2 separate regions of the Homo sapiens genome follow, and region 2 is linked to region 1. The links come from fine-mapping of genetic effects on gene expression. Tissue or cell type: testis. Region 1 holds a variant in brackets; the other region holds the start of a gene. All regions are shown on one strand. Distances are between the middles of the regions.

Region 1 (8,262 bases):
TCATCAGTTAAAGGAAAAACTTCTGGCAGCCCCAGCCCTGGGGCTACCGGATCTGACAAAGCCTTTTCCATTGTATGCGTCACAGAGAGAAAAGATGGCAGCTGGACTTTTAACCCAAACTGTGGGGCCCTAGCTGAGGCCAGTGGCCTACCTCTCTAAACAACTAGACGGGGTTTCTAAAGGATGGCCCCCCGTTTGAGGGCCTTGGCAGCAACTGCCCTGCTAGTACGAGAAGCAAATAAGCTGACTCTTGGGCAAAACCTGAACATAAAGGCCCCCCATGCTGTGGTGACTGAGAGCCAGCCCCTCTTCCCCGCCTGGCTCTTAGGATCCACGGTGGACTCACAGCCTGTTTACCATATTGTGAGTAATATCATCTCCCCCTCTGGAGATTATGAACTGTTTCACAGACGGGTGTACACACTCGGTGTACAGAGGGTGTACACCCGTCTGTACTGGGAGTAATATCATCCTCTTCCTCCCTGAATATTAAGAACAGTATCACAAGGGTGTTTCTACTCCCTGCGATATCGCGTGTCATATCCTCCTCTCCCACGTTGCAATTAGAAACAATATCAGTGGGGGCGAGTCCACCTTCTGTCATATTGAAAGTAATATCATCTTCTTCCCTCCAGGATCGTGGGAAAAATATCCCTGGGGGGTTTCCACTTTCTGCCATACATGTAGTCATATCACCCCCTCTGCCTTGGAATATTATTAAGGACCATCTCACACGGGGGTGAATACTTACTGCCATATTGGGAGTAATATCAACCTCTCGGCCTCTGAATATTAGGAAGAATATCACAGCGTGGGTGTACACATCGTGCTCTATTATGGGGAGTCATATCTGCCTATTATGGGGAGTAATATCATCCTCTCCCTTTCAGGATATTAATAACAATTTCACAGGCTGGGTGAACACAGCCTGCGATGCTGGAATTACTATCATTCTCTCCCCCTCTTCCCACCTGGATCTCAGGACCTCATCGCAGTGGGGGGAGGCACCCCCAGTGAGGCGGGGACTGAGAGCCAGCCCCTCTTCCCCACCTGGCCCTTAGGACCCCCATCGCAGGGGAGGAGGCATCCCCCGTGAGGCGGGGACAGAGAGCCAGCCCCTCTTTCCCCCCTGGCTCTTAGGACCCCCATAGTACGGGGGGAAGGCATCCCCCTGTGAGGCGGGGACTGAGAGCCAGTACCTCTTCCCCCCCTGGCTCTTGAGACCTCCATCGCGGTGGGGGGAGGAACCCCCCAGGAGGCGGGGACTGCGAGCCAGCCCCTCTTCCCCCTGTGGCTCTTAGGACCCCCATCGCAGCGGGGAGAGATACCCCCCGCGAGGCAGGGACTGAGAGCCAGCCCCTCTTCCCCCCCTTGCTCAGGACGCCCATCGCGGATCCTAAGATCCTTTGGACCCACCTGGAGGACTGTGGGTATTAGGTGTCCAAGAAGAAATCTCAGAGCTGCCGAAGGCAGGTACCTTACTTGGGATTTACTATCCAACAGGGGTCCGAACTCAGCAGCCCGGGATCAGAAAGAAAGCAGGTCATTTGCAATCTATCGGAGCCTAAGGGCAGAAGGCAGGTGAGAGAATTCTTAGGAGCTGTGGGGTTTTCTAGACTGTGGATCCCAAACTTTGCAGTATTAGCCAAGCCTTTCTATGAGGTCACAAAGGGGGCGGGGACCAGGAACCTTTGGAATGGGGATCCCAACAACAGCAAGTCTTTCATGAGTTAAAGGAAAAACTTCTGGCAGCCCCAGCCCTGGGGCTACCCGATCTGACACAGCCTTTTCCATTGTATGCATCAGAGAGAGAAAAGATGGCAGCTGGACTTTTAACCCAAACTGTGGGGCCCTGGCTGAGGCCGGTGGCCTACGTCTCTAAACAACTAGACAGGGTTTCTAAAGGATTGCCCCCCTGTTTTAGGGCCTTGGCAGCAACTGCCCTGCTAGTACAAGAAGCAAATAAGCTGACTCTTGGGCAAAACCTGAACATAAAGGCCCCCCATGCTGTGGTGACTGAGAGCCAGCCCCACACACCCACTCCACCACCAGCTCTCAGGATCTGCGGTGGACTCACAGCCTGTTTACCATATTGTGAGTAATATCATCTCCCCCTCTGGAGATTATGAACTGTTTCACAGACGGATGTACACCCGTCTGTACTGGGAGTAATATCATCCTCTTCCTCCCTGAATATTAAGAACAGTATAACAGGGGTTTTTCTACTCCCTGCGATATCGCGTGTCATATCCTCCTCTCCCACGTTGCAATTAGAAACAATATCAGTGAGGGCGTGTCCACCTTCTGTCATATTGAAAGTAATATCATCTTCTTCCCTCCAGGATCGTGGGAACAACATCCCTGGGGGTTTCCACTTTCTGCCATACATGAAGTCATATCACCCCCTCCGCCTTGGAATATTATGAAGGAGCATCTCACACCGGGGTGTATACTTACGGTGATATTTGGAGTAATATCAACCTCTCGGCCTTTGAATATTGGGAAGAATATCACAGGGTGGGTGTACACCTCGTGCTCTATTATGGGGAGTCATATCTGTCTATTATGGGGAGTAATATCATCCTCTCCCTTTCAGGATATTAATAACAAATTCACAGGCTGGGTGAACAGCCTGCGATGCTGGAATTATTATCCTCTCCGCCTCTATCCCCCCCTGGCTCTTAGGACCCCCATTGCAAGGGGGTGAGGCACCCCCCGCGAGGCGGGGACTGAGAGCCAGCCCCTCTTCCCTCCATGGCTCTTAGGACCCCAATCACAGAGGGGGGAACACCCCCCGCGAGGCAGGGACTGAGAGCCAGCCCTTCTTCCCCCCCGGCTTTTGGGACCCCCATCGCAGTGGGGGGAGGCACCCCCCGCGAGGCGGGGATTGAGAGCCAGCCACTCTTCCCCTCCTGGGTCTTAGGACCCCCAACGTGGGGGGGGGAGGCACCACACGCGAGGCGGGGAAAGAGAGCCAGCCCCTCTTCCCTCCCTGCCACTTAGGACCCCATCGCAGGGAGAGGAGGCGGCACTCCCCACGAGGCGGGGACTGAGAACCAATCCCTCTTCCCCCAGCCTGGCTCTTAGGATCCCCATTGCAAGGGAGGGAGGCACCCCCCGCCAGGCGGGGACTGAGAGCCAGCCACTCTTCCCCTCCTGGCTCTTGGGACGCCCATCGCAGGGCGGAGAGTCACCCCCCGCGAGGTGGGGACTGAGAGCCAGCCCCTCTTCCCCCCCTGGCTCTTAGGACACCAAACGCAGGGGAGGAAGCACCCCCCGCGAGGCGGGGACTGAGAGCAAGCACCTCTTTCCCCCCTGGCTCTTAGGACCCAAATTGCGGGGGGGAGGCACCCCCGCGAGGCGGGGACTGAGAGGCAGCCGCTGTTCCCCCACACTGGCTCTTGGGACCCCCATCGCAGGGGGGATGGCACCCTCCGTGAGCGGGGACTGAGAGCCAGCCAATTTTCCCCCTGGCTTTTAGGACCCCCATCGGAGGGGGGGAGCCACCCCCCATGAGGCGGGGACTAAGAGCCAGCCCCTCTTCCCGCCCCTTGCTCTTCCGACCCCCATCGCATTGGCGGGAGGCATCCCCCAGGAGGAGGGGACTGAGAGCCAGCCCCTCTTCCCCCCCTGGCTCTTAGGACCCCCATCACAGCGGGGGGAGGCACCCCCCGGGAGGCGGGGACTGAGAACCAGCCCCTATTCCCCCCCTGGCTTTGGGACCCTCATCGCAGGTAGGGGAGGCACCCTCAGCGAGGCAGGAACTGAGAGCCAGCCTCTCTTCCCCCCCTGGCTCTTGGGACCCCCATCGAAGGGGGTGGAGGCACCCCCGGTGAGGCGGGGAATGAGAGCCAGTGCCTCTTCCCCCCCTGGCTTAGGACCCCCATCGCGGATTCTAAGATCCTTAGGACCCACCTGGAGGACTGTGGGTATTAGGTGTCTAAGAAGAAAGCTCAGATCTGCGGAAGGCAAGTACCTTACTTGGGATTTACTATCCCACAGGGGTCTGAACGCAGCCCAGGATCAGAAAGAAAGCAGGTCATTTGCAATCTATCGGAGCCTAAGGGAAGAAGGCAGGTGAGAGAATTCTTAAGAGCTGTGGGGTTTTGTAGACTGTGGATCCCAAACTTTGCAGTATTAGCCAAGCCTTTGTATGAGGTCACAAAGGGGGCGGGGACCGGGAACCTTTGCAAGGGGGATCCCAACAACAGCAAGTCTTTCATGAGTTAAGGGAAAAACTTCCAGCAGCCCCAGCCCTGGGGCTACCCGATCTGACAAAGCCTTTTCCGTTGTATGCATCAGAGAGAGAAAAGATGGCAGCTGGACTTTTAACCCAAACTGTGGGACCCTGGCCGAGGCCGGTGGCCTACGTCTCTAAACAACTAGACAGGGTTTCTAAAGGATGGCCCCCCGTTTGAGGGCCTTGGCAGCAACTGCCCTGCTAGTACAAGAAGCAAAGAAGCTGACTCCTGGGCAAAACCTGAACATAAAGGCCCCCCATGCTGTGGTGACTGAAAGCCAGCCCCTCTTCCCTCTCTGGCTCTTAGGATCCAAGGTGGACTCACAGACTGTTTACCATATTGTGAGTCATATCCTCTCGCTCTCTGGAGATTATGAACTGTTTCACAGATGGGTGTACACCCTCGGTGTACAGAGGGTATACACCTGTCTGTACTGGGAGTAATATCATCCTCTTCCTCCCTGAATATTAAGAACAGTATCACAGGGGTGTTTCTACTCCCTGCGATATCGTGTGTTATATCCTCCTCTCCCACGCTGAAATTAGAAACAATATCAGTGAGGGCGTGTCCACCTTCTGTCATATTGAAAGTAATATCATCTTCTTCCCTCCAGGATCGTGGGTACAACATCCCTGGGGGTTTCCACTTTCTGCCATACATGAAGTCATATCACCCCCTCCGCCTTGGTATATTATGAAGGAGCATCTCACACAGGGGTGTATACTTAC[T/G]GCGATATTTGGAGTAATATCAACCTCTCGGCCTCTGAATATTGGAAAGAATATTGCAGGGTGGGTGTACACCTCGTTCTCTATTATGGGGAGCCGTATCTGTCTATTATGGGGAGTAATATCATCCTCTCCCTTTCAGGATATTAATAACAATTTGACAGGCTGGGTGAACACTGCCTGTGATGCTGGAATTATTATCATCCTCTCCCCCTCTTCCCTCCCTGGCTCTTAGGACCCCCATCGCAGTGGGGGAGGCAACCTCCAAGTGGCGGGGACTGAGAGCCACCCCCTCTTCCCCCGCTGGCTCTTAGGACTTCCATAGCAGGGGGGAGAGGCACCCCCGCGAGGCGGGTTCTGAGAGCCAGCCCCTCTTCCCCCCCTGCCTCTTAGGACTTCCATAGCAGGGGGGGGAGTCACCCCATGCAAGGCGGGGAATGAGAGCCAGCCCCTCTTCCCCCCCTGGCTCTCAGGACCCCCATCGCAGGGTGGGAGGAACCCCGTGAGGCAGGGACTGACAGCCAGCCCCTCTTCCCTCCCTGGATCTTTGGACCACCATCGCGGGGGTGGAGGCACCCCCCGCGGCTCGGGGACTGAGAGCCAGCCCCTTTTTTCCCCTGGCTCTGAGGACACCCATCGCAGGATGGGGAGGCACCCCCGGCGAGCCCGGGACTGAGAGCCAGCCCCTCTTCCCCCACTGGCTCTTAGGACCCCCGTCGTAGGGGGGAGGCAGCCCCCACGAGGCGGGGACTGAGAGCCAGTCCGTCTTCCCCCCTGGCTCTTCGGACCCCCATGGGGGGCGGGAGGCACCCCCAACGAAGCGGGGACTGAGAGCCAGCCACTCTTTTCCCCCGGCTCTTGGGACCCCCATCGCAGGAGGGTGAGGCACCCCCCGTGCGATGGGGACTGAAAGTCAGCCCCTCTTCCCCCCGGCTCTTAGGACCCCCATCGCAGCGGGGGGAGGCACCCCCTGGGAGGCGGGGAGTGAGAGCGAGCCCCTCTTCCCCCTCTGGCTCTTAGGACGCCCAGCACAGGGTGGGGAGGCACCCACCGCAGGGTGGGGACTGAGAGCCAGCCCCTCTTCCCCCCCTGGCTTAGGAACCCCATCGCAGATCCTAAGATCCTTAGGACCCACCTGGAGGACTGTGGGTTTTAGGTGTCCAAGAAGAAAGCTCAGAGCTGCCGAAAGCAGGTACCTTACTTGGGATTTACTATCTGACAGGGGTGGGAACGCAGCCCAGGATCAGAAAGAAAGCAGGTCATTTGCAATCTAGCAGAGCCTAAGGGCAGAAGGCAGGTGAGAGAATTCTTAGGAGCTGTGGGGTTTTGTGGACTGTGGATTCCAAACTTTGCAGTATTAGCCAAGCCTTTCTATGAGATCACAAAGGGGGCGGGGACCGGGAACCTTTGCAAGGGGGATCCCAACAACAGCAAGTCTTTCATGAGTTAAAGTAAAAACTTCTGGCAGCCCCAGCCCTGGGGCTACCCGATCTGACAAAGCCTTTTCCATTGTATGCGTCAGAGAGAGAAAAGATGGCAGCTGGACTTTTAACCCAAACTGTGGGGCCCTGGCTGAGGCCGGTGGCCTACGTCTCTAAACAACTAGACAGGGTTTCTAAAGGATGGCCCCCCTGTTTGAGGGCCTTGGCAGCAACTGCCCTGCTAGTACAAGAAGCAAATAAGCTGACTCTTGGGCAAAACCTGAACATAAAGGCCCCCTGTGCTGTGGTGACTTTAATGAATACTAAAGGACACCATTGGCTAACGAATGCCACACTCACCCAGTACCAAACTTTGCTCTGTGAAAATCCCCATATAACCATTGAAGTTTGTAACACCCTACACCCCGCCACCTTGCTCCCGGTATCAGAGAGCCCTGTCGAGCCTGATTGTGTAGAAGTGTTGGACTCAATTGACTCTAGCAGACCTGACCTCCGGGACCAGCCTTGGGCATCAGTAGACTGGGAACTATACGTGGATGGGAGCAGCTTCTTCAACCCCCAAGGAGAGAGAGGTGCAGGGTGTGCAGGGGTAACCCTGGACACTGTTGTTGAAACCAGGTCGTTGCCCCAGGCCACCGCAGCCCATAAAGCTGAACTCATTGCTTTCATTTGGGGCGTTAGAACTCAGTGAGGGTGAGACTGTCAACATTTACACTGATTCCCGGTATGTCTTTTTAACCCTTCAAGTGCATGGAGCGTGATAGAAAGAAAAAGGCCTATTTAACTCTGGGGGAAAAGACAGAAAATATCAACAAGAAATCTCGCAATGATTAGAAGCAGAGTGGAAACCCCACAAGGTGGCAGTTATGCATTGCAGAGGACACCAGCGAGCTTCCACCTTGCTGGGTTTGGGGAATTCCCGCGCTGACTCAGAGGCTCGAAAAGCAGCATCTGCCCCCTTTCGGGCATCAGTGCTCCCTCAAGCACCTGATCTTGGACCTACTTCTTCTAAAGAAGAAAAGGACTTTCTCCAGGTAGAGGGAAGGACAAGTGATGGAGGAAGGATGGATTCGGTTACCAGATGGGAGAGTAGCTGCGCCACAGTTGCTAGGAGCTGTAGTTGGACAAGAAACCACCCATCGAGGTCAGGAGTCACTGGAAAAGTTGTTAGGCCAGTGTTTCTACATCTCACATTTGTCAGCCCTTGCCAAAACGGTGAGGCAGCGGTGTGTTACCTGCCGACAGCATGATGCGAGGCAAGGTGCAGCCGTTCCGCCCGGCATACAAGCTTATGGAGCAGCCCCCTTTGAAGATCTCCAGGTAGACTTCACAGGGATGCCAAAGTGGGGAGGTAACAAGTATTTACTAGTTCTTGGGTGTACCTACTCTGGGTGGGTGGAGGCCTATCCAACACGAACTGAGAAAGCTCGTGATAACCCCTGTGCTTCTTCGAAATCTGATTCCTAGATTTCGACTGCCCTTACGGATCGGCTGAGATAACGGACCTGCGTTTTTGGCGGCCTTGGTACAGAAGACGGCAAAGGTATTGGGGATCACACGGAAACTGCCTGCCACCTCCCGGCCTCAGAGTTCCGGAAAGGTGGAATGGATGAATCGGACTTTCAAAAATAGTACTATTGTCTTCCCCGCTGGATATTTAAAACAACACCACAAGGGGCATCAAACTACCTGCTAAATTTGAGGGAATGTTATCCTCTCCCCACCTCCCCCGGCCCCGGATATTAGAGACAATAACACAGGGTCAATGTACACCCACTGTTTTATTGGGAGTAATATCATCCTCTCCCTTCTTGGATATTAGGAACAATATCACACTGTACGTGTACGCCTGTC
Region 2 (8,000 bases), 36 kb before region 1:
ATGGTCATGGCTGCACAACAACGTGAATGAACAATACTACTGAACTGGGCACTTACAAATGGCTAAGATGGCAAATTTTATGTCAGGTATATTTTATCACAAATAAAAACAACTTGAGAATGACAGGTGATCCTAAGAGAAAGAAAAGAAAGAAGTTCTGTTTTTGCCACAAAGAACAAACAAATAATTGGTCACAGTAGTTCAAGTACTTCCTAGCAAGACCAGAAAACCTGATCATATCACCCCCTCACCTAACCCCTGCAGTGACTCACTATTACCCACAGCTAAATCCAAGCTCCTGAATTTGGCAGGTAAGGTCCCTACATTAGATGCCCTTACCCACAAGAGAGGAAGAAAGGATTCTCATCTGCCCACATGCCAAGGAAAAGCCTCCTACATGTGCAGACCAGGGTGAGAGAAGGTAAGGCAGCTAACTGTGGAAGACGGCAACAGTAGGGAAAAAGAACACAGAGAAAAAAGGAAGGAAAGAGACAAGGAGAACAGAAAGAAAGAAGGAAGGAGAAAGGCAAGCCTGCTGGAGAGAGAAGCATGAATAGTTGGTTTGGGAGCCATTGAAAAAATATTTGGGGAAGCAAATGTTCACCATGCCGTGAGACCAACATCAAGAGAAATGGGTGAAGGGTTGGGAGAAGATTTGCTTTAAGTTATGTAGGCCACCCTGGGTTGCCAAGCAAGAATGCAGCAAATATTGCAATTTTTGTTTTCAATTATTTGAGATTGTTATTTGTCAATATTTTTCAATTATTTGAAATATGAAATTAATGCTTCTTAGAAAGTGCTGTCATGCCAAGACAGGGCCACACAGGGACTGGGCTTCCCAGAGGTGCCCTGTGGCTTCATGATACAGACATTTGTACTCACCCTCACACACCCTGTGCCATTTCCCCAGCCCTGGCTGGGGCTGGTTCTGCCAGCGGCACCACTGGGCACCCCCTCCAGACTTAGCTTAGACCTCCCCGTCTCCAAAGCCTGCCTGAGTGCGGCTCCCTGTCCTGTGCCCCTTGGCACTCCACTCCACTTCTCCACTGTTGTTTTGCCAAACGGCTTCTTAAGAATCCTTTGTAAAAGGTCCATGTGGGGTCTGTGTCCCCCACCAGACTTGGAGTACCCCAAAGGTAGATCAATGTTTTATTCATCCTCATTTTCCCAGCAATGACCACAGCACAAAATACCTAACCTGCTACGCAGTCTTTGGGGAGAAAAAATCACTCAATTTTTTAGGGCCTTGATTTCCTTTCCCTAAAAGCAGGGCTCAGGGAGTAGGGTCACTGAGAGGAGCAAATGAGACAATGGATGAGAGGGGACTCTGGAAACTGATTCAGGAGAGCCTGGGGATCCTGTCTAAGCTGTAACAATTTCACTGAAGCTTTTTATTTCTTACTCACTCCCCAAAGTAGATGCTGTATCTTCCTATTAGGGGCTACCGGAACCACTATCCCCCTCCCGAAGTGTGCAGCCTGTGGGAAAGACCAGATGGGCCCCTAGAGGCCAGGGCTAACCTAGCTGGGAAAGCTGCATTCCGGTGGCTGTGCCTCCATCCACGGGATGTGTGAAAAACACTGAGATCCCCCGTCAGTCACCACAGCTAACGGCAGCTTGGCCCTTGCCAAGAAGTCCAGCACCCTTTCTCACCAAGATACACTGAGAGCCTGAAAGCTAGTATCAATTTTCCATCCCTAGTCGTGGAGGGCAGGGGCATTCTATGAACAAGACTTCTGGGAGCAGAGCTGGCCTGGGTACCAAGGGAGAGTCCCAGCTGCTCAGCACTGGGTCAGGGGTGGTGATGGCGATGTGGCCCCAGACCAGGGCTCTCACTCGTGATCTCAATCCTGCCCCTGTGGACGGGGGTCCACAGGAACTCATGCCCAGGAGTAAAAAGGTACAACCCATGTCTTATAGTCCTAGACCAGAAAAGCTGCCTCCTAAAATTACCAGAGACTGTATTTATAGCCCATCTTACTTGAAGAGGCTTTTGCTCACCATTTCTGGAAAAGGTTTCAGTCTGCAATCAAAGAAGTAAGTTCTATCACAAAAGATATGGTATATAGAATAAGGGAGGGGATTTTTTTCTCTTCCGCTCTGTGCTAGGACACTGCACTTTAAGAAAAGAGTGATTACCTCTAGGATTGTTGAAGAAACAGGATCTGGTTAGGCTAGAAAAGAAAAGACTTACAGGGCTCTTATCTTAAACAGGGAACAGACATTCTGAGTAGACTTGCAGCCTGGAATCAAGACCAAAGAGTAGAAGCTCCAGGGAGAGAGATAGCGATTCAATGTAAGAAAGAATTTTGGACAGTCTCGACTATAGAAATAGAACCAGACCATCACTGGAAGTGGTCCAGCCAAAGTAGGAGATGCTGCCCTGGTCAGGGATGCTGTAGACAGCCAGCACCTGAAGGTGATGGTCAAAGGCCTCCTTGAGGAGATTTGCACATGGGTGCCACATCCCAGAACGTTCCTATCCATGCACTTTTGTCCCAAAACGTATCACTGGAGAAAGGTTTTCTCCCCCTGAAGTCACTCATATTATAGACCTGAAAAGTGATGGGACAACACTATAGTGCCTGGAACATTAACTCGATTGGATAAAATGGGCAATCACCTCTCCCCTAAACAGGCACATTTAAATTATGTAAGGCCTGTAGCAGGCTCCCTTTCTGACACTTGGGGAAAAAAAAATCTACCTGGTTTCTGATTTCATTAACTTTTTCTAAAAGTTTCCCTGGGTGCCTCTATACCTTGCAGTGAACCCCAAGTGCTCACCTGAGTTCCATCACATCTGAGACCAGCACTCAGGACAACCCTATGAAAGACTCAGGGTTCCTAGACTTGTAATGGGCCCAAAGACTTCACTTTTCTCTCACCTTGCTCACCAAAAGGCATGAGGTCAAAACAGGAACTTCACAGAAGATAATATTTCCCATTAATAGCAGTTTACTTTTAAAGTTCTGGGGACCTGATCATTTCGTAGAGTCAATATTGACTCCATGTCTACTCTGGGCTGGTGATGTATTAGGCACTTTGTAGCCAACGAATCTTTGATCAATCCTGCAAGATGACACCATCCCTTTAAAAAAAATTATGGGAAATGAAATTCAGAGAGGTTAAGTGACTTGAGCAAAGTCACCCAGAAACTAGGAGGCAGAGCATAGGTTTGAGTCCAGATCTGACCTAGTCCATTGCTACTATGAGAAACTCTAATCATAAATGGAAAGACTGCTAATAAACAGTGTTTTGAAGAAAAAAGATTGCATTAGAATGTTATTTGAAGCTTATTAGAACAAGAGTATGGATATACAATTTCCAATATATTAGAGGTCAGATTAAGCCCTCCTCCAATACATGCTAAAATATCTCCAGGCAGTCTTTCACTTCAATATGAAAAAAGATTCCAACAAAATTTAAATTGAGCTCTCTAAGTTTAGTATAGGTTAATTTCATATTCTGCTTCAGGTCTAAAACTTAAAGCTTTAAGATATCAACATTAAAGACAAGAAAGAGTGTTATGCCTGCAAAGAAGCTCCAGTGTCATCAAGTCTGGTGACTATGAAGTTGTGTTAGTGTCATGGATCTCTCTGGATTCAAATGAAAGCTATAGACCTCTCTCTACATCTCCCAAAAAGCATGCTCAAAAAGCATTTTGCCCACACCCTCATGGTCCTCAGATTGAGACCTAAACCAATCTCGTTTTATAGATGAGAATATTGCAGCTCAGAGAGGTTAAGTGATTTGCCCAAGATCACACAGCCAATTCAGAGCAGAGCCAGGACTTGAACCCTGGCCTCCCACTTCTCAGTCTCATGCTCTTCCCCTCCCCACTCCCCGCCACCGGCAACCACCACCCCTCTGCACTGCCTGTTTCAAATTCGGATTCAAAAATTTCCCTTTTTAAAACATAGCACATTTCTTCCTGAAATACCATTTCCTTCATGTTTTTAAATAGCTCTGAGAATCCATTGTATTTCTGTCCCGGTAGTGACAGGATGGGGTCACCTGGGCTATGTTTCATAAGCGATAATGAACGAACTGGCCGTTTGCTAGAGAAAGATCACGAGTGAAGCCTTTTCCCGACCTTTCTGTAGAGTTAACATCATCTAAGAACTGAATCCAATTGTGATTGAAATAAGAATCCTGAAAATCTCACTTAGATTTGGCTGGGAGCAGGAGACACTGTCAACTAGAGAAAAGAAGAAAAAGGGAAAAGAATATAAGGTTTGCATGGTGTCACTGTGATAGAGAGAAAAGTTCTCAATTTCATCTTTCACCTTCCTTCTCCATTGTCCAAAGGCTCATAACGGAAGAAGAGATCGCAAGCTACAGGTAGGCTTTACACACGAGAGGAAGGAAGGAAGGAAGGGGTGCTCTCGGCAATCCAGATGCAGACCCAGGACTGCATTTAGGGCAGATGGAAGAGTTCACACAGTGCTAGCTACAGAGCTTATTAGAAAAGACTATGGATACATAACTTCCAACATATTAGAGGTCAGATTAGGTCCTCTTCAAATGCAGGCTAAAATATCTCCACACAGTCTTCCGTGCCATCTTTGAGGCTCTACTTACTGTCATCTTCATTCAGATCCCTGTCCATGTTCCAGACGTCCTGCCAAAGAGATGTCTGCCCTTCGAGTGTGCTTGGACCGATGTGCTCTGATGGACCACCCTCAGGCCCCTCCCAGAACAGCAGGCCCATTGTTACCCAGTTGGAATACAACAAAGGGAAACATCTATATCGTTCATCATAGCAGCTGCTCTGCACCCAATCCACCGGGTTCTGGGAGCTCCTCTTCCACAAGAGCCTTCTACTGACCAAGCTCTTATGGATGCTTCTAGTTACTCATGTCCTCACTGCACCCCTTTGAGAGGGGCACTGGTATCATGCCCATTTTTCTGAGCAGGATGATAGATTCAAACCCTCATCAGTCTGACTCTCTAGTCAGAGTGCCTGACAACTGAGCTACATCGCCCAGCTGTAGGAGGCAGACTCCTAAGTATTGTAGGGCGCATGCAGAAAAAGGTCATAACCACAAGAAGGTTACCTCCCCAAGGGGGATATTATATACAGATACTCAGCCTGGGCAGGGCCTCTGAGATCTTGAGCATCACCAGCCTCATCTCCCTGGGGAAGAAACAAAGCTGGGATTGTGAGGCCACACTGCAAAGCCACACGGCACCTCATGGGCAGAGCTGGCTCCCAACCCAGCCATGTGGGCCACTACTGTCGCCACACCAGCCTCGCCCACTGTGAAACATCTTTGGATTTGTAAAAGGTCTTTTCCTAAACCTTTTCCATTGGAGTTTGACACCCCTTCAACCTCAGCCCTTGGAAGATCATCCTCCTCTGCATGAGTCTAAACACAGAACTTGTGAGCTGGTCCCCGAGGCTCTATGGGTCCCACCCCCTCCACTGCATCCTTGGCAATCACTCCTCTGCAGCTGAACCTGGGGTTCTCTGGCCAGGGTGATGAAACTGCCCTACGCCTTGACTTCCCCATCCCAGCAATGCACGTGGGATGTGCCATGATATTCCTCAATGACAACCTGGGATTGCCTTCACCAGGGGAAGCATCAGGACTATTTTGTCAGTGTCCTAAATGTCGGCCTGTCTGGGATGGCCACACTGCACAGAGATGGCTCCCAGCTGCTCCATAAAGAGCGTGTCTTTATTCTCTCTACTGCCTTCACCCTCGTCACTGACTGCCCATCGCCGACAGCATGCAAGTGCAACCTTCAGCAGTATTCACAATTTCACAAATGCTTCTTAGGTGACTCAGTCCTCACAAATCGATTTTTATGGCTGGTAGGAGCACTGGATTTCTGATACTTGAGAGTCATATAAGTTTCATTACTGTGTATACACAAGGAAGACCATGATCCTGAGGAACAAATGTGGTCTTTTGATGCCTTTATACATGAAGCAATGATTTTAAGCCCTTATAGAATTGTCCCCATGGTAAATGGGGTTATCATGAATTTGTATGCCTTTCTCTGCGTGTATATTTTACCCTAAACATCTGTGTGAGCATCCATTGCTGTATCTGTTTAGGTGTGTGTTTGCATGTGTGTATATATTTGAGCCAAAACATGATAAATGATAGATTAATGACAAAATGCTTGCAACTTAACTAAAACAATATACCACTATTACATCTTGAGTACTTTTTAAGCGCAATATATGCTTACCTAAAACCCTCCTCAGCATTTAAAAGGAACAACCACAGAAAATTCTTTAAATGTCAAATTGAACAAAATGTTGAAGAGAATTAAGCATTACAAGGACCCGAAATCTTGAGGCCGCAAAAATGCAGACAACGCTGAGCTGTATTTTCGTAACCAGGAAGTGCTGATCAGCAGAAATGACAGTCCTTTTCTGCACGCTACTTAGATCACATAATAGTAAGTTAATAAAAAGCTCTTAAAACGCATGGAAGATAAACAAACCAACAGCTAGACCTTTCTGATCTTGCTTCGGCATCCGTACAGAAGTGCTGTCTGCAACAGTGTGCTTGAGTGACTCGGGGCAAGTAATGTACCCATCAACACCTAACATCCGTGGTAGCAGCAGGAACAAGCAGCATTAGCTCTGGGACCCACGACAGTGTGAGGCTAGTACTGGTCCCTGCCTCTTACTATCAAAGGAGGTTGGGATCAGGGAAGAGAGGCGCCCACTATGTGCCTGACATCTGACAGTCATTCTTCCTCCCTGCTGTTGATGGAAATGAGTGGGCTCTGAGAGCTCCTCCTGAACTGGCCCTCGTGTCCTGCATGTGCTAAGTGCTCAAGAAACATTTGTGGAATTAGCACAGCTGTCCAGGAGCTGACTCTATCAATTGATTGCTGTCTAAGAACCTTGTTTTTTCCTGGAAATAAAATCTATGTAATCTCACAGGTGGGTGTCTGTCTTGGGATATGTCATGGCTGCAGCAAGAATTAGGGTAGGGCAGAGCTTTAGAAGGGAATCAAGGAACCACGTGGTCAGACTGCAATTGAACATGATAGTGAGGAAAAACCTAGAAGCAAGGTTCAATAACTGTCTTCAAGTGTTTAAAGGGGCATGTGGGAAGGCAGCAGCAGAACAGAATCTCAGGACACCTGTCCTATCCATGCGCAGGCATGCGGAGAGCTGGTCCGGAATGGAGGTCATTTTCGGCTGAACAAAGAAACTTTCTAGTGAGAAGAGTTTCTTGCCTTTGGACTGAGCTCTTTGGAAGAATATTAACGCAGAAGCTTGGTGATTAAACAAAGTGGGGTGTGAGCAATAGTAGAACATCACAGTCTGTGGCTTCAGAGTCAGGGTAGACTGAGTTCAAAGTCCTAAAGTGGACATGGCAGCACTGCAGCCCCTTTCCAGAACATCCCTGAAGGACCGTGGTGAGGAGAAGTACTCCCAGGGGGCAGAACCTTGAACAGTGCCTGGTCTGGTTATTTCTTTTTGTCTCAGAGAAGCCGGCTATTGCTCAGCTCCTGCTGGACGAAGGTCTCACCCCACCATCTACAGAGCCCTCACTCTCATTCATCCAGTGAATGCTCCCTGCACATCCACCAGGAACCAGGCCCTGCCTCGGGCCCTCACAACCCAACCGAACCCAGAGCCACCCAGAACCCCCACAGGAGCCAAGACTGCCAACAAAGGAGTTCTGCCCCAAAGGGCCTGGCAGCCACAGATAACATTGTTGTTGGCTTATCTGCAGGCTGGGTGGATGGAGACCAGTGGTGCCCATGGCAGGAATCAAGTATGGAGTGGAGGAGAATGGGCTTGACACAAATAAGAAACTTGTCCAAGTAGGAGGTTCTCGAAACACCATGCCCAAGCACCCTCCTCTCTCTGGGAGCCAGGGAAACTGGCATATCCCTCCAGGCCCAAGTCGTGGACCTCTAACTGCACAGACAGAAAACAGGGACTGAGATCTTCTTGATGCCCCCCAAATACCACATAGGAAGGGAGATGCGTTCACAGATGCTTTCTCAGTTAAACCTTCACA

What was found. PIP is the estimated chance that this variant, and not a neighbour inherited with it, causes the effect.
Region 2: it holds the start of SSUH2, and the variant in region 1 is fine-mapped to the expression of SSUH2 in testis (GTEx, PIP above 0.99).

The regions. Positions count from the first base shown.
Region 1 is chr3:8,675,790-8,684,051 of GRCh38, forward strand. It overlaps a transcript of SSUH2 not described here. Among named protein-coding and RNA genes, the nearest start is that of SSUH2, 35 kb to the left of the region's middle. The variant T/G (reference allele first, on the strand shown) is at 4,970.
Region 2 is chr3:8,640,150-8,648,149 of GRCh38, forward strand. SSUH2 (ssu-2 homolog) reads right to left here and starts at 4,649. Exons shown (of 12, transcript NM_001256748.3): 1 at 4,582-4,649. The coding sequence starts at 4,609.